4 linked regions of the Homo sapiens genome follow. The protein of the gene in region 1 interacts with the protein of each later gene in a pairwise test. Each region holds a gene or a part of one and is shown on either strand. Other genes may lie near its edges. The genes, in order: BAAT, CASP6, SETDB1 and HIP1.

Region 1 (7,025 bases):
TCCCATGATTACTGATATGGTTTGGCTGTGTTCCCAACCAAATCTTAACCTTGAATTGTAATAATCCCCACATGTTAAGGGCAGGGCCAGGTGGAAATAAATGAATCACGGGAGTTGTTCCCCCCCATACTGTTCTCATGGTAGTGAATAAGTCTCACAAGAACTGATGGTTTTATACATGGGAGTTCCCTGCACAAGCTCTTTTGCCTGACACCATGTAAGACATGACTTTGCTTCTCCTTTGTCTTCTGCTATGATTGTGAGGCCTCTCCAGCCATGTGAAACTTTGAGTCCATTAAACCTCTTTCCTTTATAAATTACCTACTCTCAGGTATGTCTTTATTAGCAGTGTGTGAACAGACTAATACAGTTACAAAGCAGCTTCCTCCTTTGTTGTTTGTCAGAGTGGCTCTTTGTTCCTTCAGGATCCTAAACTTCTCATTCAAAGTCATCTCTGTCTGTTTTCCAGCACAATTTATGTCAATTGTAGGGTTCCACTTTAGGAACTTTCGTTATGTCAGATTGCTTCCATTTTGTTAAAAATGAAGATACAGCAGTATGAATTAATCCTGATTTCTGTGTTAGGCATTGCACTGCTCCAGGATTGTCCAAAGATAGAGTCAAAATTCCTCCGTTTGTGGTGAAAGTGAGACAGCCAGTGGGAAGGAGTCCATGGAAAAACTCCAACCGCGGGCGAACTGGGAGGAATGCACACTGGGGTGCCACCGAAGTTTCTGCTATTTGCAGTAGGGAGGAGCCTGGCCCCTCCTCTTCCTGTGTGGAACCTTGGATTCAAATGGCGAGGCAGGGAGCGCACTAGCTGCGATTCCGGCTTTGCCGAAAGTAACTGTTCCCCCTTTTCTCCTTTTTGCCCAATAAGTTCCATTTTTCTCACTCCGCAAATTGTGAGCCTAAATTTTTGTGGCCGTGGGACAAGGACCACATCTTTAGCTGAACTAAAAAGAAGTCCTGCAACAAAAATCTGCCATTGATGAGTTCTCTTTCCGACTACGTTATCCAGCAGTTGCTGTTGTGTTCAACTGGGTCTGAACCTTCACGTCTCTTCTGAAATGAAAAGTTGCCTGACGCATGTGTTTCTGATGGCTTAATTTATTTCCATTCTTGGTAAAATTGGCTGGAATGTTTTTTTTTTCTGTTTAGCTGGTTAGGTCCCTTGAGAACTGCAACTGGTTTTTTTCTGCACTTCATATTTGTCCCAGAAGGTTTGCCTTCCTTTTTAACACTAGAAAATATCGTTCTATATTCCTGTCACCTAGAGACGGATGATTCATAGGATTAATTTCTTTGTGAATTCCAGTTGCTTTCCTAGATGCAAGGCCAGTGATAACTCCATAAAGCTGTCTCTTTCCAGGCATTACTCATCCTCTGTGCTCAGACTAGTCTTACCAAAGCCAGAATTCTGTTGAATTCTCCATCATATGCTCATCCTGAATTGCCAGGCTCCAGTTAGAAAATTATGCTTCTTTCCTCCCTGTCAATTTAGTTTGATGATATCATCCAAAGACATACCAATTTTGTTGAGATTTTCATTGTTGCGGGCTTTCAGTGGCAGCAATGGGGTCACCCTGCCTCCCACCAACCAGGTACCAAAATGGTTCATGGCTGGGGATGCCTCACTAGAACAGTCAGCAGAGAAGGCCACAGTTGGAGGCCTGCCACCTCCCACTCACGCACAAAGACTAGCTGCATTGTTGGAGGCCTGCCACCTCCCACTCGTGCACAAAGACTAGGAGCATGTAGGCATGCTGGCCCGGTTTAGTGGTATTTTAAAGATTGTTTCAAAATGAATGGAAGAAATGATATAGATACAAATAAATAGATCTAAAAGTTAGAGAAAGAGAAACATAGAAAGCAATTTTGTAAGAGGGCATTAATGGGCATTAGGTAGATTCCATGTCTTTGAAACTGTGAAAAGCTATTGTGAATAGTGCTGCAATGAACTTTCATATGCATGTGTCTTTATGGTAGAGTGATTTATTTATATTCCTTTGGATAGAGAAAAGCTTTATGGAATTCTTGTGTGGTCAAAAGCTGAGTGAGAGTCAATGAAATCATTCATAAAATTTTATTAAAATTAGCTTTACTATTGATAATACTCTAATACAAAGCAAAATTTAGTTTTCTCTTTTGAACAAGATTTTTGGATAGTATTAATGAGAGATAATAAAATTTTTGTTTACCTTTTGAGTCTTAATACAACACTATCAAATGTTGGGTGGACCAAAGGGAGTCCCTGCTGGTTCCCCAACATTAAAGAGCCCCAAATCAGTTTTCTATATTTACACCAGATTGGGGAAGTTTCAAAAATCAGAAGGCAAAAATTACAATGAGAAAGCTGATTAATAATTTCCTGGGGCAATGTGGAGACAGACTAATCAGATAAAGATTGACAAAAAGGCCCACATCCCTTGGCTCAACTCCTTGCTGGGAACCCAGAGGTTTTTTCACAAGAGAGGGTAAAATGGTCTGGGGGTGGAGTACAGAAGTTCCTGAGACTAGAGCATAAAATATAAGGATTGATAGGATTATAAAAGCTAAAATGTTTACAACACCCCTTCATGCTAAAAACTCTCAGTAAACTAGATATTGATGGAACATATCTCAAAATAATAAGAGCTATTTATGACAAACCCATAGCCAATATCATAATGAATGGGCAAACCTGGAAGCATTCCCTTTGAAAACCAGCACAAGACAAGGATGTCCTCTCTCACCTCTCCTATTCAACAAAGTATTGGAAGTTCTAGCCAGGGCAATAAGGCAAGAGAAAGAAATAAGGGGTATTCAAATAGGAAGAGAGGAAGACAAATTGTCTCTGTTTGCAGATGACATGATTCTATATTTAGAGAACCCCATCATCTCAGTCTAAAAACTCCTTAAGCTGATAAGCAACTTCAGCAAAGTCTCAGGATACAAAATCAATGTGCAAAAATCACAAGCATTACTATACCAATATTAGACAAGCAGAGAGCCAAAACGTGAGTGAACTCCCAATCACAACTGCTACAAAGAGAATAAAATACATAGGAATACAGCTTACAAGGGAAGTGAAGGACCTCTTCAAGGAGAACTACAAACCACTGCTCAAGGAAATAAGAGAGGACATAAACAAATGGAAAAATAATTCCATGCTCATTGATAGGAAGAAGTGATACTGTGAAAATGGCCATACTGCCCAAAGTAATTTATAAATTCAATACTATTCACAGAACTAGAAAAAACTACTTTAAATTTCATATGGAACCAAAAAAGAGCCCATATAGTCAAGACAATCCTAAGCAAAAAGAACAACACTGGAGGCATCATGCTACCTGACTTCAAACTATACTACAAGGCTACAGTAAACAAAACAGCATGGTACTGGTACCAAAACAGATATATAGACCAATGGAACAGAACAGAGGCCTCAGAAATAACACTACACATCTACAACCATCTGATCTTTGACAAACCTGACAAAAACAAGCAACAGAGAAAGGATTCCCTATTTAATAAACGGTCCTGGGAAAACTGGCTAGCCATATGCAGAAAATGGAAACTAGACTTCTTCCTTACACCTTATACAAAAATTAACTCAAGATGGATTAAAGACTTAAATGTAAAACCTAAAACTATAAAAACCCTAGAAGAAAACCTAAGCAATACCATTCAGGACATAGGCACAGGCAAAGATTTCATGACTAAAACACCAAAAGCAATTTCACCAGAAGCCAAAATTGACAAATGGGATCTAATTAAACTAAAGAGCTTCTGTTCAGCAAAAGAAACTATCATCAGAGTGAACAGGCAACCTACAGAATGAAAGAAAATGTTTGCAGTCTATCCATCTGACAAAGGGCTAACATCCAGAATCTACAAGGAACTTAAACAAATTTACAAGAAAAAAACAAACTGCCTCATCAAAAAGTGGGTGAAGGATATAAACAGACACTTCTCAAAAGAAGACATTTATGCAGCCAACAAACATATTTAAAAAAAGCTCATCATCACTGGTCATTAGAGAAATGCAAATCAAAACCACAATGAGATAATATCTCATGCCAGTTAGAATGGTGATCATTAAAAAGTCAAGAAACAACAGATGCTGGAGAGGATGTGGAGAAATAGGAACAGTTGTACACTGTTGGTGGGAGTGTAAATTACTTCAACCATTGTAGAAGACAGTATGGTGATTCCTCAAGGATCTAAAACCAGAAATACCATTGTTAGGAGGTCTCCAACTCCTGACCTCAGGTGATCCGCCTGCCTCAGCCTCCCAAAGTGCTGGGATTACAGGCGTGAGCCACCGCATCCGGCGAATGTCGCATTTTGACATGCCCAGGAACCTCCAGTTATTTGGAAATCTTTAGAAGAATTCACCCAATTTATACAGCTATTGCAGCCTGATGGCAAATCCCTGGCTTTGTTAGCCTCAAGGCTTTAAAAAAATCTGAGATTCTTTATTTAAAAGTTCCAAAAAAGCCAATTTTACAAGAACCTATATGGCCAATCACTATTCTTGCTGCACTTTATGCAAATAATCAGGTCAAGCATAATGAGACTAAAATTCATTTTGCAAATAAATTGGTCCTACAATAATTTATCCTTGGTAGAAATAGAGAAACTTAGAAAAAAATTGTTTCAGAAGAAAACTATTGTACACCCATGATTAGATTCTAGTCTTAACCATTGTTTTTATTACTTGCCTACAATTTGGACTAAATCCTAAATTATTTTGTGGCTACAAGAAGTCTCTAAAGACAAACCCGGTTTTAATTTTCTTCATGTTGTTTTTAGTTGGCTCCCTAATGGAATAGGTTCTTTTTTGTTGTTGTTGTTCTGGCATACAAATTCTGTTTTTGATTGTAGTCCCTTGTGTGCATATTAATGTTATTTATCTCTCATTGTTTTACTTCATCCAAGAAAATCAAAATCATGGTACTCCAAAGACTAGAGATGATTCAAGAAAGCCTATGCATTTTTTCTCATCTGAAATCCCACTGGGCCTGATCTGTTTCCCATTGCCAGTGCACTGCTGCTAAAGCTGTACAATATCAAGCACCCTTCCTCTAAACTCAAAGACCATTGAAGAAGAGGACAGTGTGTGAGATTCTAAAAGCCCAATTAGAAAGCTGGAGTGTGGAGGTTATAGCAACTCCATCTTGAATTCTAATCTGCCAGTTGACATCTGATTAATCCCACTTCTAGGAATGCCTTTAAGATTTCTGCCTTATCTACTATCTCTTGTATAAGAGCACCTACCATAAATCCTACCCTTAGGCAAATTCCTACATATTCCTGCTGAAGCATGTATATCCTTTCCCTATGGTATATCAACCCTGGGTCTGGGGAGTAACAGTGAGGGGATCCTTTGTCTCACAGCTGCCTGAGACACAGCTTCTGTTTGTAAGCCCCTATTAAATGTTTCTCTCTGAGAAACTGTTTTGTCACTCTCTTTGTTCAGTGTCTCAGCTCCCTTGGCCTTTGGGGGTAGGTTTGCACAGACCTGCTCACTTACCACAGAGCAAGCTTACTCACAGCATGGTGGCTGGGTTGGAAGGGCAAGCAACACAAGAGAGAAAAAGCTAGGTAGAAGCTGTATCCTTTTTATATCCTAGCACTGGAAATCACATAGCATAATCTCTGCCATTTAATAGCAGCCACAAGCTCCCATCAAAATTCAAGTGGAGAAAATGTTGATACCTATTAACAGTAGGAGATATGTCAATCACATTGTAAAATTTTTTTAAGTGGATGAAACGTGTATGTGTATTTGCTTTTTATTTTTTAAGATGGAGTCTTGCTCTGTCGCCCAGGCTGGAGTGCAGTGGTGCAATCTTGGCTCACTGCAATCTCCACTTCCCAGTTCAAGTGATTCTCCTGCCTCAGCCTCCCGAGTAGCTGGGATTACAGGCACCCACCACCATGCCTGGCCAATTTTTTTGTGTTTTTTTAGTAGAGATGGGGTTTCAGCATGTTGGTCAGGCTGGTCTCAAACTCCTGACCTCAAATGATCCGCCTGCCTCAGCCTCCCAAAGTGCTGGGATTACAGGCATGAGCCACCGCACCTGGCTGTGTGTGTGTATTTGTATGTGTATTTGTGTATACATTTTTGGGAAATGCAATCTGCCACAAGAGGAAAGGAGGAATAAAGGAGCAAATAATAAATGGGATGAATGGAAATGGGAGTTTAAACCCACACATATCAATAATTACGTTAAATACAAACAGATCAAACACTCCAATTAGAAGACACAGGCCAGGCGTGGTGACTCATGCCTGTAATCCTAGCACTTTGGGAGGCTGAGGTATGAGGACCGGTTGATCCCAGGAGGTTGAGACCAGCCTGGGCAACATAGTGAGATCCCATCTCTACAAAAAAAAAGTAAAAATTAGCTGGGTGTGGTGGGGCAAACTTGTAGTCCCAGCTGCTTGAGAGGCTGAGGCAGAAGAATTGCTTGAGCCCAAGAGGTCAAGGATGCAGTGAGCTGTGATCATGCCACTGGGTGAAAGAGCTGACTCCACCTTGGGTGAAAGAGCTGAAATCCTATCTCTAAAATAAATACATACATAAAAATAAAAAAGAAGACAGATTGTCAAACTAATTGAAAAAGCAAGTGGTTATTTTTCAGAAACACATTGTCAAAAAAAGACAGATTGAAAGTAAAAGAAAATATATGCAACAGTGTTTGTGTTGCATATATGTGTATATATAGATGAGAGATGAGACAGACACAGACATAAATACATGCTGACAAGAATGAGCCTACAGAGAGAGAAGTCCTGAGAATGATAATTCAGTGGTGAGTAAACATTGAATATGTTTCCTGAGAAGCTTAAAAATAAGTGATACTATAGCTTCCAAGTACCGTATTTCATTTGTTTTCTTGTAATCAAGAAATTGAGTACTTAAGATCATACAGAAATACATGAGAGTCAGAAATGGAATCTACATTTCCAACTCTTAGTCAAATTGATTAGTACTTCAAAAAGAATTTATCAAGAGTCTACATGTCATAGTCACT
Region 2 (7,667 bases), on another chromosome or scaffold:
GAGTTCCTTATACTTATTTCTTAAGTATTCATTATACTTATTTTAATATATTAGAAGTGGTGCCTTAACACATTTTAATTTTTTTCCCACTCTAAGGTTGCTTACTTTTAAAATTACAAGGTCCAGAGGAATTACAAAAGATAAAGCCACCGTTTCATCAAATCTGAAAGCATTGTCAAAGTAAATTTTTTACAATAGCCAACCACCCAAGGAGGAGCTAAATTAAATCCAACATTGAGCACCCCATGGCACCTTGTTGGCACACTGTTTGGCTGCTATTTTTGGGGTAGGACAACATGCTCTCCCCAGGAAACACCATTATCTAGAGACCCTCATCATTCTGTGAATTTCTGCATGGTTCTGTCCCTGAATTAGCTCTACCTATGAAAGCCAGATTTGAAAAATCCAGGAGAAGCCAGGTGTCGTGGCTCATGCCCGTAATCCCAACATTCTGGGAGGCCAAGGTGGGCAGATACCAGGTCGGGAGTTTGATACCAGCCTGACCAACATGGAGAAACCCCATCTCTACTAAAAATACAAAATTAGCCAGGCATGGTAGTGCACGCCTGTAATCCTAGCTACTTGGGAGGCCAAGGCAGGAGAATCGCTTGAACCCGGGCGGCAGAGGTTGCGGTGAGCTGAGATCATGCCATTGCACTCCAGCCTGGGCAACAACAGCTAAACTGTCTCAAAAAAAAAAAAAAAAAATCCAGGAGTTACCTCCAGTTTACTTTGGCCCAAGTTTCATATACAAAGAACATTTAAAATAAGTTACTGCAAGTCCTACAAAGTAACTTGCACTGGGGAAAGGACTACACATGAAACAGGAACATATATGCCACCCCCTATGGGATACCTCAGAGGGATTTCGAGTTTGGTTCCAGACCACCAATAAAAGAGTCACACAAATTTTCTGGTTTCCCAGTGCATATGAAAGTTTTTCATACTAAAGTGTAGTCTGTTAAGTGTGCAATAACATGTCTAAAAAAATAATGTATATACCTTAATTTTAAAATATTGCTAAAAGATGCTAGGGATCATCTGAGCCTTCAGCGAGTTATAAATGTTGGTGTGGGGTATTGTTGAGGGCTGCTGACTGATTAGGGTGGTAGTTGCTGAAGGCTGGGATGACTGGCAATCTCTTAAAATAAGGCAATAAGGAAGTTTGCTTCATTTTTTTGTTTGTTTTGAGATGGAGTCTCGTTCTGTCACTCAGGCTGGAGTGCAGTGGCATGATCTTGGCTCACTGCAACCTCTGCCTCCTGGTTCAAGTGATTCTTGTGCCTCAGCCTCCTGAGTAGCTGGGATTACAGGTGCCTGCCACCGTGCCCGGCTAATTTTTGTTATTTTTAGTAGAGACAGGGTTTTGCCATGTTGGCCAGTCTGGGCTCGAACTCCTGGCCTCCCAAAGTCCTGGGATTACAGGCATGAGCCACTGCACCTGGCCATCCATTGATTGTTCCATTCACTAAAGATTTCCCTGTAGCATGTGATGCTGTTTGGTAGCATTTTATCCACAGACCTTCTTTCAAAATTGGGGTCAATCCCCCCAAACCCTGCCACTGCTTTGTCAACTAATACCCTGAATCCTTTGTTGTCATTTAAACACAATTCACAGCATATTCACCAGGAGTAGATTCTATCTCAATAAACCACTTTCTTTGCTCATCCGTAAAAAGCATCTCCTCATCTATCAAAGTTTTATCATGAGATGGCAACAATGCAGCCACATTTTCAGGCCCCACTTCCAATTCTATTTGTCTTGCTACTTCTGCCACATCTACAGTGACTTCCCTCACTGAAGTCTTGAACCCCTCAACATCAGTGATGAGGATTGGAATTAACTTCTTTCAAACTCCTGTTAATGTGGAGATATATGCATATACCTATGTATAATGTATGTGTGTGTGTATATGTGTGTGTGTATATATATATATATATATATATATATATATATATATATAAAATGGATAGGTATGTTGTCCTGCCTGTAAAATACCACCCAGTGTGCCAATTGAAATATATATAATTTTTAAATATTTATATATGTATTTTATATATATTATATATATATATATATATATATATATATATTTTTTTTTTTTTTTTTTTTTTTTTTTTAAAGAGTGTCTTACTCTGTCACCCAGACTGGAGTGCAGTGGCACAGTCAGCTGACTGCAGCCTCAAACTTGGGCTCAAATAATCCTGCCATCTTAGTGTCCTGAGTTGCTGGGAATACAGGCATGTGCCACCACTCTTGGCTAATTAAAAAAAAAAAAAAATTGTAGAGACAGGGTCTTGCATTGTTGCCTAGGCTGGTCTCAAAACTCCTGGCCTCAAGCAATCCACCTTGGCCTCCCAAAGTGCTGGGTTTACAGGCATGAGCCACTGTGGCTGATACATGTACTTTTAATTTTTCGTTTTTCTTTTTTTCCCCCTCTAGTCTCTAGTTACATACCGTAAGTGGATATTTTGACCTCCCATGAATCACAAATGTTCTTAATGGCATCTCGAATGATGAATCCTTTCCAGAAGATTTTCAATTTACTTTGCTCAGAACTATCAGAGGAATCATGATGACAGCTATAGCCTTATGAAATGTATTTTGTAAATAAGACTTGAAAGTCAAAATTTCTCCTTGATCCCTGGGCTTCAGAATGGATGTTGTGTTAGCAAGCACGATAACAGCATCAGTCTCTGTACATCTCTATCAGAACTCTTGGATGACCAGGTGTATTGTCAATGAGGAGTAATATTTTGAAAGGAACCTTTCTTCTGAGCACTAGAGCTCAACAGTGGGCTTTAAATATTCTCTAAGCCATGCTGTAAATAGATGTGCTGTCACTAACTAGCCTTTGTTGGTCCATTTATAGATCATATTTAGCATAATTCTTAAGGGCACTAGGATTTTCAGAATGGTAAAGGAATGTTGGCTTTAAAGTCATCAGTTGTATTAGCCCCTAACAAGAGCATCAGCCTGTTCTTTGAAGCTTTGAAGACAGGCATTGACTTCTCTCTAGCTATGAAAGTCTTAGATGGAATCTTCTTCCAATAGAAGGCCGTTTCATATACATTTAAGATCTGTTGTTTTGGCTGGGCACGGTGGCTCACACCTGTAATCCCAGCACTTTGGGAGACCGAGGCGGGCAGATTGCTCAAGGTCAGGAGTTCAAGACCAGCCTGGCCAAACATGGTGAAACTCTGTCTCTACTAAAAATACAAAATTAACCTGGACATGGTGGCACATCCTGTAATCCCAGTTACTTGGGAGGCTGAGGCAGAAGAATCGTTTGAACCCAGGAGGCAGAGGTTGCAAAAGATCGCACCACTGTACTCCAGCCTTGGTGACAAAGCAAGACTGTCTCAAAAACAAAAGATTGTTGTTTAGTGTAGCTGCCTTTATCAATGATTTTAGCTAGATCTGGATAACCTGATGCAGCTTCTACGTTAGCACCTGCTGCTTCACCTTGCACTTTTATGTCATGAAGATAGTTTCTTTCCTTAAACCTCAGGAACCATCCTCTCTGCTAGCTTCCAGCTTTTCTTTTGCAATTCCCTCACCTCTCTCAGCCTCCATAGAATTGAAGAGTTAGGGCCTTGCTCTGGATTAGGCTTTGGCTTAAGGGAATGTTGTGGCTGTTTTTATCTTCTATCCAGACCAACTAGAACTTTCTCCATATCAGCAATAAGGCTGTTTAGCTTTATTGTCTTTTGTGTGTTTACTGGAGTAGCATTTTTAATTTCCTTCAAAATTTTTTCCTTTGCATTCATGACTTGGCTTTTCTCCTTTGCACTCACAACTTGGCTAACTGGAGCAAGAAGCCTAGCTTTCTGCCTACCAACATTACTTCCTCACTAACTTAATCATGTTTGCTTTTGATTTAAAGTGACAGGCTCTTCCTTTCATTTGGACACTTAGAGGCCTTTGTAGGATTATTAGTTGGCCTAATTTCAAAATTGTGTTTCCAGGAATAGGGAGGCCCCAGGAGGGGGAGAGAGAAGGGAAAGTTCGGTGGAACAGTCCAAACACATACAGGGCTTATGGATTAATTTCCCCTTCCTTTATGAGCGCGGTTCATGGTGCCCCAAAACAATTGCAATAATATTAAAGATTACTGATCACAGATCACAACAGCAGACATAATAACAATGAAAAATTTTGAAATATTGCGAGAGTACCAAAATGTGACACAGAGACACAAAGCGAGCCAATGTTGAAATACAGGCAGTATCTGCTAAGCGGTATAAAACAATCTATGCCTGTACCTCTAGAAAGTACAGGCATAGCAAAGTAAGGAATAGCAAATGTTTGGGGCAGCTGGGATTAAATGAGTCCGAGCTCACACAAGTGATGTGAAATTGCCTCGGGCTAGGCGGTCTGTGTGTCCCCCCGGGTGGCAACTGGCATGTCCCCAGGGCACGGTTAGTCCCAGCGGGCCTGGAGGCGAAGACCGCGTACCTCTCCCTGCCCCCGCGCTCTTGGTCCCCGCGGGCTCCGGAGCGACTGGGAGGAGCTTTAACTCTGGGAAGGACCAGCCCGATCCACGGGAGCCCGGGCGGCGCGCAATCAGAACCAACTGGCCCCACGCTCGGGGGCAGGGGGCGGGGCCGCCGAGGAAGGGCCGAGGGCGGGGCCGGGCCCGGGAGCCTGTGGCTTCAGGAAGAGGAGGGCAAGGTGTCTGGCTGCGCGTTTGGCTGCAATGAGCTCGGCCTCGGGGCTCCGCAGGGGGCACCCGGCAGGTAGGCAGGGGGCGTCGACTGGGCACCGAGCAGGTCTGCGTCTTGCTCCGGCTGGAGGGGAAACGAGGGTTAGTGGACCGGGCGCGCGGACCGGAGTGGGGCCGCGGGTTCCTTCGGCTTTGCAGGGCGGCCTGGAGAAGTTGCACTCTTGGATTGAAGCGCTCAGGGCGGGTGGGGACGGTTTCGCGCTTCAGTCTAAGAAACACTCGGGGACCTGGCTGCCGCCTCCTGGCGGTCCCGAGTAGCGACGCCGGCGCCGGGGCGTGCCCCTGCCGCCTTTGTCCTCCGGGGCGATGAGCGCTTTCGGGGCGCCCCGGCTGTTTAAACCTTAAAAGGCTGTCCCCACGCGGGCCTGGCGTTCCCCCACACCTGGCCGTTTGAAATGTTGGGGGTTGGATCTTTTGTTTGCTCACTTCGAAAAGTGAAAAGGAGGGGTTGTTCCGCCGAGTCATAATGAAAACATAACAGGCCCGCGGGGTGCCCGGGCCAAGACCCTGGGTCCTCCCGGGCTTCAGCTGGAGGCGGCCAGTTCCTGGCGGCCAGCACACCCCGGTATCTCTCTTCTTCATCCAGGAAACCTGCTGCTGTCTGTCGGTTTGAGCCAAAACCACAATAACTTTTTTCTGCAAAGTAATCAACTGCTAAGAGCGTACGTTCTGTCACTTATTACTGGTAAAGTTTAGAAACTTCAAGCCTGGCCAGAGTGAAACAAACAAAAAGGTCGAAACGCCTGCAGTTGGCCGGCCGTGGTGGCTCACGCCTTGTAATCCCAACACTTTGGGAGGCCGAGGCGGGCGGATCACCAGAGGTCGGGAGTTCTCGACCAGCCTAACTAACACGGTGAAACCCCGTCTCTACTAAAAATACAAAAAAATTAGCCAGGCCTGGGCGCAAGCTACTGGGGAGGCTGAGACAAGAGAATCGTTTGAACCCTGGAGGTGGAGGTTGCAGTGAGCCGAGATCGCCCCACTGCACTCCAACCTCGGCGACAGAGTGAGACTTCGAATCAAGAAGAAAAAAAAAAAAAAAGAACGAAACGCCTGCAGTTGGTTAGAGTGCCTTTGTTTAAGAACTCTTTATATTTTGCTGCACAAAGGAAATGGTGCTCCAGAGGCAAGCTGTAAAAGTCACATGGTCGTAGAGGAGGTAGATAGGTAGCCTTGTCCTGGAGGCACAGTGCAGGGTCCAGTTGCAGTCTCTAGGGGCGGGAAGCCGGGGCTTTCCTTCACTCACCTGCTCCCTTCCTCTTCTTCCTCCACCGCACTCCCCAGTGCATGTTCTAGGCCTGATGGAGGTTACTCTACATAGGGTTACTAAATACATTGTTGATGGAGCCGATGGGTAGATTTTCATAGAGAGTGCAGTGAATGAAGACGATGACAGTAGAATGACCGAAGTCGTTTGGGAAGTTGAACAAAGTTTAGAAAGGTAGCCGGTCTCGGGTGGGAGGGGCTGCGTGGGGATGGGCCTACAGAGACTTTGGAATCTGTAGGTGGGCTGGCTTTCAATCCCAGCTTCACTTTGCCGACCTTGGCACGCCTGGCCCACTTTCTCTGTCCCTGTTCCTGAGCTGTGGAGCTGTGAGATAAGGTATCTAAGGCATCAGGCCATCAACAAATGGTAGCTGGCAGGATTATCTGGAGGGACTATCAAATTAGAGTGAGGTGAAAAAAGGAATGATTAGTTTTGTAAAACCTAAGCTGATTTAAGGAATAAGGAGGTGGCAGTTACATTATCCTGCAAAGGAAGAGAAGTGAAAAGAGGGCCAGACACAGTGGTGGGCGCCTCTAGTCCCAGCTACTGGGGAGACTGAGGCAGGAGAATCGCTTGAAACCTGGAGGTGGACTTGCAGTGAGCCAAGATTGCGCCACTGCACTGCAGCCTGGGCGACAGAGGGAGGCTCTGTCTCAAAAAAAAAAAGTGAAAAGAGGTCAAGAATCAGGTTTAAAGAAGGGCACATTTTTGATAAGTAGATTGCAGATGAAAAGGAATTTCTATATCTGTTATACAGGGTAGCTCCTTCATTAAAATTTATTTTCTCCATATCAATAAAGCTATTTCTTACTTTATCCAGGTTTTTAAATATTAACGCAGGCCGGGCGTGGTGGCTCATGCTTGTAATCCCAGCACTTCCAGGAGGCTGAGGCAGGTGGATCACTTGAGGCCAGGAGTTCAAGACCAGCCAGGACAACATAGCAAAACCCTGTCTCTACTGAAAATACAAAAAAAAAGTAGCTGGGTGTGGTGGCGCATGCCTGTAATCCCAGCTACTCAGGAGGCTGAGGCGGGAGAATCGCTTGAACCCGGAGGCGGAGGTTGTGGTGAGCCGAGACCACGCCACTGCACTCCAGCCTAGGCAACAGAGCAAGACTCCATCCCAAAAAGATAGTAATAAAAAATAAATATTAATGCGGCATAATGATACTTAAGTGCCCCCTTCTGGAAAGCTTGTCTTCTTGGGATACACAGCTCAAGGTGGTCATGATGTGTTATTTTCTCTCAATCTGTGGGTAAAGTTTATCAACTCCAGAAAAGTATTGGAACTTAGGTCCTGGCATCTGTCTCCATAGCTTTTTGTTCTGATTCAGTGTTTGCTAGAGTGGCCACTGGACCTGGTCATTAACTGGTACTGCAGGATGCAGGGTGCACTTTGTGAGAGTGAAGGTAAGTTACAGCTGGCCAGCATCAGAATTGGGATGTCCAGAGCCTAGGTTTTTTTCTACATCCGTAGCATTAACAAACAACAACAACAACAAAAAACTTAAAAAAAAAATCCCTCACTGAGGTTGCCAAATCTGTTAACTTTGAAACTGAATGTATTAAGAGATGGGGTCTAGCTCTGTTACCCAGGCTGGAGTATGGTGACTATTCACAGGGGCAGTCATAGCACACTATGTCCTAGAACTCTTGGGCTCAAGAGATCCTCC
Region 3 (6,898 bases), on another chromosome or scaffold:
TACTTTTTAAATGAAATGTAGATTCAATAACTAGTACAGTTAGTGTAAAGACACATGAACAAATTAAAGCAATGATAAGACGCTGTGGTAGTCAATAAAGCTGGTTCATCAGACACACCAGGTTCTCCCTCCTCCCAGAGGTAAGATAACTGCTCTTCCTGGCCCCCTGGTGGTTGTGTAGGACTTTGTGATTCATTCAGGTCAATGAGTTGTAAAAATCAGTGTCTTGAGTCATTTTGTTAATATGAGTCCCTCTAGCATTCTTTCCCTCTGGTATTACTACTCATCAGTGTGGGTTTCCCCAGTAGCTATCATTAGCAGAGCCCCACCATACCTTCCAGAGATGATTATGTAGTGTGAGCAAGAAACACGCCTTTTTTTTTTCTTTTAAGCCACTCAGATTTTGGAGTTGTTTCCACAACATAACCTAGTCTATCCTGATACTGATACTATTTTAATACATATCAAGTTCTTAAAAATTAAGTAGTTAACACCCAGTACTAATAGGGGTGTGGGGAAACACTTTCAGATTTGCTAGTGAGAGTAATAATTGTTACAACCTTTTAGAAAGGTAATTTGACCGCAGATTCTATTAAAATGGAAAAAAAGGGGCCGGGTGCAGTGGCTCACACCTATAATCCCAGCACTTTGGGAGGCCGAAGCGGGCGGATCACCTGAGGTCGAGTGTTTGAGACCAGCCTGTCCAACATGGAGAAACCCCATCTCTACTAAAAATACAAAATTAGCCGGGCGTGGTGGTGCATGCCTGTAATCCCAGCCTCTGGGGAGGCTGAGGCAGGAGAATCGCTTGAACCCCAGAGGCGTAGGTTGTGGTGAGCCGAGATCCTGCCATTGCACTCCAGCTTGGGCAACAAGAATGAAACTCTGTCTCAAAAAAAAAAAAAAAGGCCAGGCGCGGTGGCTCACGCCTGTAATCCCAGCACTTTGGGAGGCCGAGGGGGGCAGATCACGAGGTCAGGAGATCGAGACCATCTTGGCTAACACGGTGAAACCCCATCTCTACTAAAAATACAAAAAATTAGCCGGGCGTGGTGGCGGGCGCCTGTAGTCCCAGCTACTCGGGAGGCTGAGGCAGGAGAATGGCCGGGTGCAGTGGCTCACCGCTATAAAACCAGCACTTTGGGAGTCCAGGGCAGGTTGATCACTTGAGGTGGTGGGTGGATCACCTGAGGTGGTGGGTGGATCACCTGAGGTCAGGAGTTCGAGACCAGCCTCGCTAACATGATGAAACCCCGTCTCTACTAAAAATATAAAAATTAGCTGGGCGTGGTGGTGGGCACCTATAGTCCCAGCTACTCGGGAGGCTGTTGCAGGAGAACCCAGAGGCGTAGGTAGGCTGTGGTGAGCCGAGATCCAGCCATTGCACTCCAGCCTGGGCAACGAGAATGAAACTCCGTCTCAAAAAAAAAAAAAAAAAAAAAAAAAAAAAAAAAAAAGGCCGGTTGCGGTGGCTCACGCCTGTAATCCCAATCCCAGCACTTTGGGAGGCCCAGGAGGCGGAACCCGGGAGGCGGAGCTTGCGTGAGTCGATATCGCGCCACTGCAGTCCAGCCTGGGCTACAGAGCGAGACTCCGTCTCAAAAAAAAAAAGGAAAAAAAAGGCCTGGCGAGGTGGCTCATGCCTGTAATCCCAACACTTTGGGAGGCCAAGGTGAGCAGATCACAAGGTCAGGAAATTGAGACCATCCTGGCTAACACAGTGAAACCCCGTCTCTACTAAAAATACAAAAAATTAGCCAGGCGTGGCGGCACGCACCTGTAGTCCCAACTACTCAGGAGGCTGAGGCAGGAGAATCGCTTGAACCCAGGAGGTGGAGGTTGCAGTGAGCCGAAATCGTGCCACTGCAGTCCAGCCTGGGCGACAGAGCGAGACTCTGTCTCAGAAAAAAAAAAAGAAAAGAAAAGAAAAAGAAAGAAAGGGCCGGGAGCAGTGGCTCACGCCTGTAAGTAATCCTAGCACTTTGGGAGGCGAGGCGGGTGGATCACTTGAGGTCAGGAGTTTGAGACCAGCCTGGCCAACATGGCGAAACCTCGTCTCCACCAAAAATACAAAAACTAGCCGGGTGTGGTGGCAGGGGCTTGTAATCCCAGCTACTCGGGAGGCTGAGGCAGGAGAACTGCTTGAACCCGGGAGGTGGAGGTTGCAGTGAGCCGAGATCGCACCATTGCACTCCAGCTTGGGTGACAAGAGCGAAACTCAGTCTCAAAAACAAACAAACAAACAAAAAAAGGAAGGCTCGGCGCAGTGGCTCACACCTGTATGTAATCCCAGCACTTTGGGAGGCCGAGGTGTGACGAGGCCAGCCTGGCTAACACGGTGAAACCCCGTCTCTACTAAAAATACAAAAAATTAGGCGGGCGTGGTGGCACGCGCCTGTAGTCCCAGCTACTCGGAAGGACGAGCCAGGAGAATCGCTTGAACCCGGGAGGTGGAGGTTGCAGTGAGCCAAGATCGCGCCATTGCACTCCAGCCTGGGCGATAGAACGAAACGCCTTCTCAAAAAAAAAAAAAAAAAAAAAAAAAAGGAAAAAAGCACATATTATTTTACTCAAATTCCATTTTGGGAAATCTTTTCTTTTTGTTTTTTGTTTTGTTTTGTTTTTGAGACGGAGTCTCGCTCGGTCACTTAGGCTGGAGTGCAGTGGCGCGATCTCCTCTCACTGAAGCCTCTGCCACCGGGGCTCAAGCGATCCTCCCCCCGCCTCAGCTGCGGAGTTGCTGGGACCACAGACGCGAACTACCACGCCTGGCTTTTTTTTTTTTTTTTTTACCTTGTATTTTTAGTCGAGATGGCGTTTCGCCGTGTTGCCCAGGCTGGTCTGGAACTCCTGGGCTCTAGCAATCCTCCCGCCTCGGACACAAAGCGCCCGGCCTGGGGAATCTTTTCTACAGAAATAAAAGTACTACTTCAAAAGGATGTTTATTTTTATTGTTGCGCTATTTGTCGGGGCTGAGAACGGAAAACAATCTAAACAATCTAAACTATTCAGGTGTCAAAAATACAAGTTATTGGTTTTTTGTTTTTTTGTTTTTTTTGGTTTTTTTGAGACGGAGTCTCGCTCTGTCGCCCAGGCTGGAGTGCAGTGGCGCGATCTCCGCTCACCGCAAGCACCGCCTCCCGGGTTCACGCCATTCTCCTGCCTCAGCCTCCCGAGTAGCTGGGACTACAGGCGCCCGCCACCACGCCCGGCTAACATTTTTAGTACAGACGGGGTTTCACCGTGTTAGCCAGGATGATCTCCATCTCCTGACCTCGTGATCCGCCCGCCTCTGACTCCCAAAGTGCTGGGATTACAGGCGTGAGCTACCGCGCCCGGCCAAAAATACAAGTTTTACCTTTTTTATTGGCTTCAGGTAATGTCCACATGTTAAATGAAAACAACAAAAATCCAAATACAGAAACTCGTACATACAAGACTGGAAAATGAAGCTGTATTACCTGAAAGGAGCGGAGTGGTGATGGGGCAAGAGAGAATATTATCACGTTTTTCTTATTACATCTTGATAGCCTTTACAATTTGTATCACTTATGTAACAAAACAAACTCAAGTAAAACTGAGAGAATAAAGCTCTGAACCTATGAGCGTTTCCCTAAGTCTTTACACAATGAATATAGTAATGGGGCCACTAGTCGAGGGTGGTAGGAGCGGCGGAGACTCGGTAATATACTGGCCACGCCTACTCTGCCCTGCCAGTCTCTTCTCACGTGTGCCCCTGGAAGGCTCTGCCTTAACGCATGCGTAGTTACCTTAGTTTTCGTCGCCTCTGAGGGGCGCCCCGCGGCTTTGGATTTGACCCCGTCAGGCTACCGTCGCGGTGACCGGAACGGCACTAAAGGTTTGCTTCCGGGCGTTTCTTTTGCTTCCCCTTCCCTCTTTCACGCTTCCTCCCCTCCCCCTCCTCCCTTATCCCTTCGCTTTCGCTCTTTTCCGTCGAGGCCGACCCCTGAGTTGTGAGTCTGGGGTCTGGTTGGTGAAAAAGAGCCCTTGAAGCTGGAAGACGGGAGGTGCGGGGAATACTGTTGAGTTATTTGGTGACCAAAGGCTTATCTGGGACGTTTTGTTTGTGGGAGGGGGTCGGGCGAGGGTGGGAAGGAAGTCTTCCCCAGAGGCGAACGGGGGCGGGGCTGAACTGGGTTTGCGAATGGGTAGGACGCACCCCTAGAATGGGTAGCACGGGGGTGGGCTGGTGTGTGGGCAGAGGAAAATGGAGGCGCTGAAAATCAGATTTTCTTTAACCGTTTGATTAAAAAAGCAGTTCACACGAATGTGTGAAGTATTTGGATTGTGGATATTAGGTACCCACGTTTTATTCCCAGGTTGCTTTACTTCTCTGTACTTTGGGGGAAACCTTTTTGCTGCAAGCTTTCGTGTGTTTGAATATCATAGACTTTTTAAAAAGTAAAATTCCACATGGAAGCAAAGTAATATAAGGGGAACAAGTAATGAAAGAGAAAACACTGAGTTAGTGAGTTCCAAATCAACTCCATCCCCAGGTGGGGTTTTGTTTAAATTAGGCATAGCATACAAAGATTTATCACATTAGTTAAGGAACACATATAGACCACAAAAATATCTTATAGATTGGTTCTCTTCAGTATCCCAAAAGATTATTTTTAAAGTTCGGTTTGTTTTGAGACAGGGTCTCACTTTGTCACCCAAGCTGGAATGCATGGCGCGAACATAGCTCACTACAGCAGCTACTCCTGGGCTCAAGCGATCCTCCCACTTCAGCCTCCTGAGTAGCTGGAACTAAAGGCGTGCACCACCACACGTGGCTAATTTTTGTATTTTTTTGTAAAGACGAGTCTTGCCATGTTGCCCAGGCTGGTCTTGAACTCCTGCCCTCAAGCGACCCTCCTGCCTCGGCCTCTAAAAGTGCTGAGATTACAGGTGTAAGCCACTGTGCCAGCCCAAAACATTATTTTCAGTAGCTCTCTACTGCTTAATGAATGTTCTCCATGCCGTCTCAAACTCTTAAATCTTTTTCAGGAGTGTTAGCGTACAGCAGAAGATAAGAACTCTTAAAAATCTCAGCATCAGATTCTGGAGAATAGGGAGGGAGAACATGGAATATTTGAATAGAATAACAGGCAGCAGAGTAGGAATTAGTTTTATTAGGGAACTGAAATTCTCTATTGATTGATTGTAGTTATAAGGACTCCAATTTAATTTGTTTTCTGTTCCATGCAGAGGACAAAAGCATGTCTTCCCTTCCTGGGTGCATTGGTTTGGATGCAGCAACAGCTACAGTGGAGTCTGAAGAGATTGCAGAGCTGCAACAGGCAGTGGTTGAGGAACTGGGTATCTCTATGGAGGAACTTCGGCATTTCATCGATGAGGAACTGGAGAAGATGGATTGTGTACAGCAACGCAAGAAGCAGCTAGCAGAGTTAGAGACATGGGTAATACAGAAAGAATCTGAGGTGGCTCACGTTGACCAACTCTTTGATGATGCATCCAGGTGAGAACTCCATGGAAAATAGAAGGAAATCTCTCCATTGGGAGATGTTTTTAGAGAATAATTGTTCATGACATTGAACCAAGCATTTTATTTTATGTTTTGAGACGGAGTCTCGCTCTGTCACCCAAGCTAGAGTGCAGTGGAGTGATCCTGGCTCACTGCAACCTCCACCTCTCGGGTTCAAGTGATTCTCCCACCTCCCCCTCCCGAGTAGCTGGAATTATAGGCATCCGCCACCACACCCAGCTAATTTTTTATATTTTTAGTAGAGACAGGGTTTCACCATGTTGGCCAGGCTGTGTACCAAACATTTTATACTTTATGAAGTACAGATGTTTAGAACCTTACTCTTCCTCAAAGTTTATGGTCAAAAATCTGACCTTACAATCAGCCGTAAATATAATTTTCATCTGTCAGCAGCTAATACATGATCAGCAGTAAGGGAGTCCAAGTCTTAAGTCCTTTCCCCTTCTTCCTCCTGTGCTCTATCTTAGAACAATTGCTTCATTTCCCTAGTAAGATCATCCAGGGAGTGAGGATTGTAAAGAATTTCTGTCTTACGTAACTCTGAAGCATTAGTAAGTTCCCATACCCCCAAAAGATTTGTTTCTGGTGCTCTAGTTGTCACTTAGAATACATTGTTTTTAAATTTATTATACTTTAAGTTCTAGGGTATATGTGCACAACGTGCAGGTTTATTACATATGTATACATGTGCCATGTTGGTGTCACTTACATTAGGTATATCTCCTAATACTATCCCTCCCCCTTCCCCCCACCCCACGACAGGCCCCAGTATGTGACGTTCCCCATCCTGTGTCCAGGTGTTCTCATTGTTCAATTCCCACCTATGAATGAGAACGTGCGGTGTTTGGTTTTCTGTCCTTGCTATAGTTTGCTCAGAATGATGGTTTCCAGCTTCATCCATGTGCCTACAAAGGACATGAACTCATCCTTTTTTATGGCTGCATAGTATTCCATGGTGTATATGTGCCACATTTCTTAATCCAGTCTATCATTGATGGACATTTGGGTTGGTTTAAAGTCTTTGCTATTGTGGATAGTGCCGCAATAAACATACGTGTGCATGTGTCTTTATAGCAGCATGATTTATAATCCTTTGGGTATATACCCAGTAATGGGATTGCTGGGTCAAATGGTATTTCTAGTTCTAGATCCTTGAGGAATCGCCACACTGTCTTCCACAATGGTTGAACAAGTTTACAGTCCCACCAACAGTGTAAAAGTGTTCCTGTTTCTCTACATCCTCTCCAGCACCTGTTGTTTCCTGACTTTTTAATGATCGCCATTCTAACTGGTGTGAGACGGTATCTCATGGTGGTTTTGATTTGCATTTCTCTGATGGCCACTGATAATGAGCATTTTTTTATTTTATTTTTATTTTATTTTATT
Region 4 (6,884 bases), on another chromosome or scaffold:
AAAAAGAGAGAGAGAGAGATTGGGGTATTCATCCCCCAGCTGCCTCCCTGCCACGCCACTTTCCACAGTGACTGTGGGTTTTCTACCTAAGGTCACAGCTCTGGGAAAATGCCTACTTTCCCATGACCAGAGCCCCCACCAGGTTACAGCACAGCTCCCTCCCCTTTTCTCTTTAGGTCTAGAGATGGTAACAGCTTCCTGGTGTTCCAGTAATATCTGGTGCTTTACCTGTCCCGGTTGATTCCCTTAACTCAGGTCACACCTTTGTACATAGTTCCTTCTCTTTCTTTTTCCTGAGAGAGGGTCTCGGTCTCTCAGGCTGGCGTGCAGGGGTGCAATCATAGCTCACTGCAGCCTCGACCTCCTGGGCTCAAGGGATCCTCCCGTCTCAGTCTCCTGAGGAGCTGGGATTACAGGTGTGCACCATCACACTTGGCTCACTGCAACCTCCACCTCCAGGGTTCAAGCGATTCTCGTGCCTCAGCCTCCCAAATAGCTGGGATTACAGGCGCGTGCCATCACACCCTGCTAATTTTTGTATTTTTAGTAAAGACGGGGTTTTGCCACGTTGCCCAGGCTGGTCTCGAACTCCTGGCCTCAAGTGAGCTGCCTGCCTTGGCCTCACAAAGTGCTGGGATTACAGGCATGAGCCACTGTGGCACGGCCACAAAAAATTTTTTAAAAATTAGCCAGACATGGATGGGCATGGTGGCTCATGCCTGTAATCCCAGCACTTTGGGAGGCTGAGGCGGGCAGATCACTTGAGGTCAGGAGTTCGAGACCAGCCTGGCCAACATGGTGGAACTCTGTCTGTACTAACAATACAAAAATTGGCCGGGCATGGTGGCATACACCTGTAATCCCAGCTACTTGGGAGGCTGAGGCAGGAGAATAACTTGAACCTGGGAGGCAGAGCCTGCAGTGAGCTGAGATTGCGACACTGCACTCCAGCCTGGGCAACAGAGCGAGAGTCTGTCTCTTAAAAAAAAAAAAGGAAGAAACTATGTACAAAGGTGTGACCTGAGTTAGGGGAATCAACCAGGACGGGTAAATTGGCAAAGCACCAGGATTTGCTGGAACAGCAGGAAGTCACTACACCCTATCTCTAAATAAATAAATGTTTTTTAAAAATTGAGATTTTTGTTTGTTTGTTTTTTGTTTTTTGCTTTTTGGAGATAGAGTTTCACTCTGTCATGCAGGCTGGAGTTCACTGGTGCGATCTCAGCTCACTGCAGCCTTCGCCTCCCAGGCTCAAGTGATTCTCCAGCCTCAGCTTCTCGAGTAGCTGGGATTACAGGCACATGCCACCACACCTGGCTACTTTTTTGTATTTTTTAGTAGAGACAGAATTTCACCATGTTGGCCAGGCTGATTTTGAACTCCTGGCCTCAAGTGATCTGCCCGCCTCGACCTCCCAAAGTGCTGGGATTACAGGTGTGAGCCACGGTGCCCGGCCAAGGTAATTTCCTCTTCCTCTGTCAGCGCCCCTACCGTGCTCCCACGCTCAGTTGTCATCTCCCTCTCCCTAGACATGAAAAATCAGGTGACATCTAATCTCTCCCAAAGCAACACAAGGGAGGGGGCACTCCCAAAGCCTCCCACAGAAACACAATTTAAGTAAAGGTGAAACCAGTCCAGTCCTTCCTATGCAAATGTAGCCTGAATGGCACCGCCATTGCCCATCCCCCAATCCCTGTGTCCAAGCCTTATTTGCGTAACCTCCCACGGGACAGAACTTCCTCCTCTCCCTTCTCTTCTAGGCCCTCATCATCTCTCATCTACGCTAGAGTCTCCCCACTGATTTCCTCCCTTCCATCAGGCCCCCATAATCCATCCCCACAATACAAGCTCCTCAGTGCACACATCTGAGCAAAAGTCTTCAGTGGCTCCTTAGTAACCGCAAATGCCCACCCCTCTTTCACTTCTCTATTGAATGTGTGAATTTTTACCAAACGCTCTTATTAAAAAAAATAAAAACAAAAACAAAAAAAAAACAGGCAGGGCAGGGTGGCTCACACCTGTAATCCCAGTGCTTTGGGAGGCTGAGGTGGTAGGATCATTTGAGCCCAGGAGATCATGACCAGCCTGGGCAATCCAGCAACATACCCCTCACTACAAAGAAATATGTATATATTTTTTTGAGACGGGGTCTCGCTCTGTCTCCCAGGCTGGAGTGCAGTGGCGCGATCTCTGCTCACTGCAACCTCTGCCTCCCTGGCTCAAGTAATCCTCCCGCCTTGTGAGTAGCTGGGACTACAGGCTTGCACCACCACGCCCAGCTAATTTTAAAATTTTTTGTACAGATGGAGTCTTGCTATGTTGCCCAGGCTGGTTTCAAAGTTCAGAGCTCAAACGATCCGCCTGCCTCAGCCTCCCAAAGCGCTGAGATTACAGGTGTAAGCCACCGCACCTGGCCAAATTTACAACACACACACACACACACACACACACACGAATCACCAAATTGTTAGGCCTAAAGGTGCCATTCATTACTCCGAGTTTCAAATAACTTTTAAAAAATACATCTATGCCGGGTGCTGTAGCTCATGTCTGTAATCACAGTACTTTGGGAGGCCAAGGTGGGAGGCTTGCTTGAGGCCACGAGTTCGAGACCAGTCTGGGCAACATAGAAAGACTCCATCTCTGCAAAAAAGATAGCCAGGCTTGGTGGCGTGCATCTGTAGTCCCAGCTACTCGAGAGGCCGAGGCAGGAAAATCGCTAGGACCCAGGAGCTCAAGGTCCCAGTGTGTTACGATCTGCACTCCAGCCTGGGCGACAGAGGGAGACTGACTCCAAATGAAACCAAAAAAAAAAAAAAAAACAAACAAAAACAAAAACAAAAACACACCTAAATTGGAGTTTAACGGAAAACTTTTAACTTTCTCCAGCACTCCTGCTAAGCATCACACTTCTCTCTGCTTGCTGGTACCCTGGCTGACGTCTGAGCAGGATGGGACGCGCGGCTCAGAGCCTAAGATAAACCGAAAGTGTCTACAGGGCTTTCTACCAACAAATAAGCTCTGACGGGTTCCTTTGATGAGGTTTGGGAGGCAGGTCCCGGGAGGTGCCCGCGGACTCAGCCCCGAACTCCGGGACCTGGGCTCTGCGATCCTTGCAGAGGGCATGGGCAGGGGCAGAATGGAGAAGTGCAGGACGGGGAAGCCTGGGAGCTGGGTGGGGGCGGCCACCCATTGAGCCGGATCCGGCCAGGCGCCCACGCTGCGCCCCGCCCGCGGGGCTGCGCTTTCCCGGGCTGCGGCCGCAGGGCTGGTCAGTCCGGCGCTCCCGGGTCCCAGGCCCGGAAGGAGCTAACGGGCTATTCGCAGGCGGGCTGGGATTCCCCCGGGGGAGGCCCCACTGCCCGGCCCGCGTCATCCCCGCCCATCTCCACGGGCCGTCGCGGGATAGCCCCCTGCAGGAGCGGGCAGGGTAGTGGGCGGCGCTTGGCGGAGGGCAGCACGCTCGGGGCGCGCGGGGACTGCGGCCGAGGGGAGGAGAGGGCGGTGCGCGGGCGGGGGCGGGGCGAGCGAGGGCATATCAGGGCAGCCCGCCCAGGCCACGCCCCATCCAGGCCTCGCCCCGTCCGCACCCCGCCCCGGCCCTGCCTAGAACGGCGGGACCACGGTGACTGACAGGACTCCAGACCAGTCACCACGCGCCTCGAGGCCCCGAGAGGCTAGTCGGGGCCGAGCCAGCGGAGGGGCTCCTGAAGGGGCGGGGGCGGGCGGGGAAGCCGTTCGGCGAGGGGCGGGGTCTCTGGAAGACTGGCAGAACTCACAGCCAATGGCAGGCGGGAGCCGTCCCGTTAGCGCCGGATCCCCGCGGGTAGGGCGGGGCGGGCGGCGCCGTGGGGATCCCGGGGCAGCCGAGGGCCCCTGACTCGGCTCCTCGCGGCGACATGGATCGGATGGCCAGCTCCATGAAGCAGGTGCCCAACCCACTGCCCAAGGTGCTGAGCCGGCGCGGGGTCGGCGCTGGGCTGGAGGCGGCGGAGCGCGAGAGCTTCGAGCGGACTCAGGTGAGGACGGGGGACCCCGGGGCATCCCTGGGGCACCCTGAGGGACGCGGTGTCCGGGAGGGGCTTTGAAGGGAGTAGGAGTCTTGCAGGCCCCAGTTGAAGACGGGGCGAGGGTGTAGTGAGCGGGGGCATTGACGTGCAGATCTGGGCGATCCCAGGAAGGTCGGGGACCCCAGGGTACCCCAGCTGGCCTGGGGAGAAGGGCAGAGGCGGGCTCGGAGGAGATGGCAGGATGCGTGGCCAAGAGGAGCCTGATCGGCTGGGTACCGGGCAGGAGTCCCAAGATGAGGTGAGAGGGGAAGGAACTGAAAAGGGGCGGAATGGAAGGGTTGCCCCTAAACAAGGGAAGCGCACGGGAGCCACTTGGAGGCTCAAGTGTGGGGGCGGAGAGTGGGGGCGCCGGGCTGGGAATGTGAAGGGTGAGGGGACCTCTCTTCCCCTCCGATCACTTCTTGGTTGCATTGACATCCCTTCCCACCCCCCACCCCTTAGCATCCCCCTTTCTCGATGCCTCTTGCTTGGCTCTGGCCAGCCCCAGCTGTCAGCTCTGAGGCCGGGCGGAAGGGGTCGGAGCAGGGAAAAGGAATGTAGGAAATGCAAAGTGTGGCCACTTTGTGGGAAAATTACTTTGGGGGCTAAAGTGGAGACCATGGTGCCCCTGAGCCCTGACTTGGGGTCTTGGTTTTATCCCCCAAGATGTGCCTGACAGCTAATAGGCAGACTGCCCTATTTGTCCTGCCTGGCCAGGGCTTGGGGCCAAAATTCCTCAGTGTCATCAACAAAAAGCCACAATCCATTTTTTTCTCCGAGTTTTTAATGCCTGGTGTATTGATTGGGCTGAATTAAGCTGACATGTTGATGGTGTTCATCAATTCATTTGTATGTAAAATCCATTTCAAAGAGTACAACGCTTCTTTTAATCCCAGTGCCAATGCTGGAGGGGCAGATTTCTTCTACACTCTTGTGCTCAGAGTGGAACCTTTGAAGATCCATTTGGGTCCCCCTCTCCAGAGGCTGGTCCCCTGATGTGTTATGCGAGGAATACTTCCCCCAAACACAGTTGGAGGGAAAGGGCTTTGGGATTTTAGTTAGAAAAGACAGTGAGAATCTGACTGAAGGTTCTGTATATGGAATCTTTCAAAGAATAGAGCTTTTGGCCGGGCGCGGTACCTCACACCTGTAATCCCAGCACTTTGGGAGGCCGAGGCGGGTGGATCACCTGACGTCAGGAGTTTGAGACCAGCCTGGCCAACATGGTGAAACCCTGTCTCTACTAAAAATACAAAAAATTAGCTGGGCGTGGTTGCAGACGCTTGTAATCCCAGCTACTTGGGAGGCTGAGGCCAGCAGAATTGCTTGAATCTGGGAGGTGAAGGTTGCAGTGAGCCGAGATGGCGCCACTGCACTCCAGCCTGGGCAACAAGAGCGAAACTCCGTCTCAAAATAATAATAATAAAAAAGAATAAAGCTTTTCACCCCCAGAGGACTTCATCCCCTCTTCTTATTCTGAAAACCTTTGGCCCCCCACCTGGGCAACATAGTGCGACCCTGTCTCTACAAAAAATAAAAAAATTAGGCTGGGTGCATTAGCTCACACCTGTAATCCCCGTACTTTGGGAGGCCAAGGTGGGAGGATCACTTGATCCCAGGAGTTCGATACCTGCCTAGACAACACACTGAGATCCCGCCTCTATTTTGAAAAAATTTTAAAATTATCCTCGTGTGGTGGCATACACCTATAGTCCCAGCTGTTTGAGAGGCTGAGGCATGAGGGTCACTTGAGCCAGGAGGCTGAGGCTGCAGTGGGCTATGATCGTGCCACTGCACTCCAGCCTGGGTGACAGAGTGAGACTCTATCTCTACAAAAAAGTGAAAAAAAGAAAGAAAACCGCGCGCAGGTGTGTCTGGATAGTGTGAAGCAGTGGGACCCTGTCTCTACAAAAAAAAAAAAGAAAAAGAAAAAAAGAAAGTGCCTCCATGCAGGTGTGTCTGGATGGTGTGAAGCAGGGAGTCTTCTCTACCTGGTTATCCTACCCCAGGAGGGAAGTGGGAAATGGTCATTTCACTTCTGCCTCCCAGGATCCAGCTAGGTTTGAGGCTTGTTCTCTGGTTTCATGGACCCGACCCCTGAAAAGAAGGAAGTTTTCCATTGGTCTTGGATGTTAGTGCCTCTGCTAGCTGCCTAGTTACATGAGGCTTCTTGCTCCATGAAACAGTGTGTATATTCCTTTTATTTTTATATTTTCATAGAGATGGGGGTCTCACTGTGTTGCCCGGACTGGTCTCAAACTCCTGGCGTCAAGTGATTCTTCTGCTTCTGCCTCCCAAAGTGCTGGGACTACAGGCATGAGCCATGGCACCCAGCCCTATTTTTTTTTTTAATAAATGAAATAAGAAAATAAATAGATATTATTTTTTAACAACCCGTTCCTTCTAGAGTCTCAAATAAGTAAAAACTAGAGCAATAGAGAAATATGCGTAAGACTTTGACCCATAATAGTGATAGAAATTAGGTTTGTGAAAGTTTCCACCCGTGAGTGGTATGTTTCCCTGCTATCCAGGGACGGCCCAACAGGAGAGTCTAGGTCAGTGTTTTCTGGTGTTTTACATTCTGTGGGACATTTGTGATTGGCCAGATTTGACCTGGGTGGGGTGGGTGGGGGTGAAGTAGAGTGGAGCAGAAAAAGAGAATTTTTCTGATGTTGAAACTCTTATTTTTAACTTTTTTTTTTTTTAAGACGGAGGTCTCACTGTGTTTTCCCAGGCTGGTCTTGAACTAGCCTCAAGCGATCTTCCCACCTCAGCCTCCCAAAGTGCTGGGATTTCAGGTGTGAGCCACTGCACCCAGCCTCTGGTGTTGAAACT

The links.
Region 2: the proteins of BAAT (region 1) and CASP6 interact in binary tests that used the Homo sapiens proteins (3 or more experiments, as listed by UniProt).
Region 3: the proteins of BAAT (region 1) and SETDB1 interact in binary tests that used the Homo sapiens proteins (3 or more experiments, as listed by UniProt).
Region 4: the proteins of BAAT (region 1) and HIP1 interact in binary tests that used the Homo sapiens proteins (3 or more experiments, as listed by UniProt).

What each region holds. Positions count from the first base shown.
Region 1 is NC_000009.12:101,374,983-101,382,007, forward strand, and holds part of BAAT (bile acid-CoA:amino acid N-acyltransferase), read right to left. Parts: intron 1-7,025. UniProt on the Homo sapiens protein: Catalyzes the amidation of bile acids (BAs) with the amino acids taurine and glycine. More than 95% of the BAs are N-acyl amidates with glycine and taurine.
Region 2 is NC_000004.12:109,700,429-109,708,095, reverse strand, and holds the start of CASP6 (caspase-6 isoform alpha precursor), read left to right. Parts: upstream 1-4,650; 5' UTR 4,651-4,700; coding exon 4,701-4,740; intron 4,741-7,667.
Region 3 is NC_000001.11:150,922,490-150,929,387, forward strand, and holds the start of SETDB1 (histone-lysine N-methyltransferase SETDB1), read left to right. Parts: upstream 1-3,873; 5' UTR 3,874-4,028; exon of another isoform or gene 4,029-4,055; intron 4,056-5,214; 5' UTR 5,215-5,225; coding exon 5,226-5,485; intron 5,486-6,898. UniProt on the Homo sapiens protein: Histone methyltransferase that specifically trimethylates 'Lys-9' of histone H3. H3 'Lys-9' trimethylation represents a specific tag for epigenetic transcriptional repression by recruiting HP1 (CBX1, CBX3 and/or CBX5) proteins to methylated histones.
Region 4 is NC_000007.14:75,735,936-75,742,819, reverse strand, and holds the start of HIP1 (huntingtin-interacting protein 1), read left to right. Parts: upstream 1-3,878; 5' UTR 3,879-3,899; coding exon 3,900-4,019; intron 4,020-6,884. UniProt on the Homo sapiens protein: Plays a role in clathrin-mediated endocytosis and trafficking. Involved in regulating AMPA receptor trafficking in the central nervous system in an NMDA-dependent manner. Regulates presynaptic nerve terminal activity.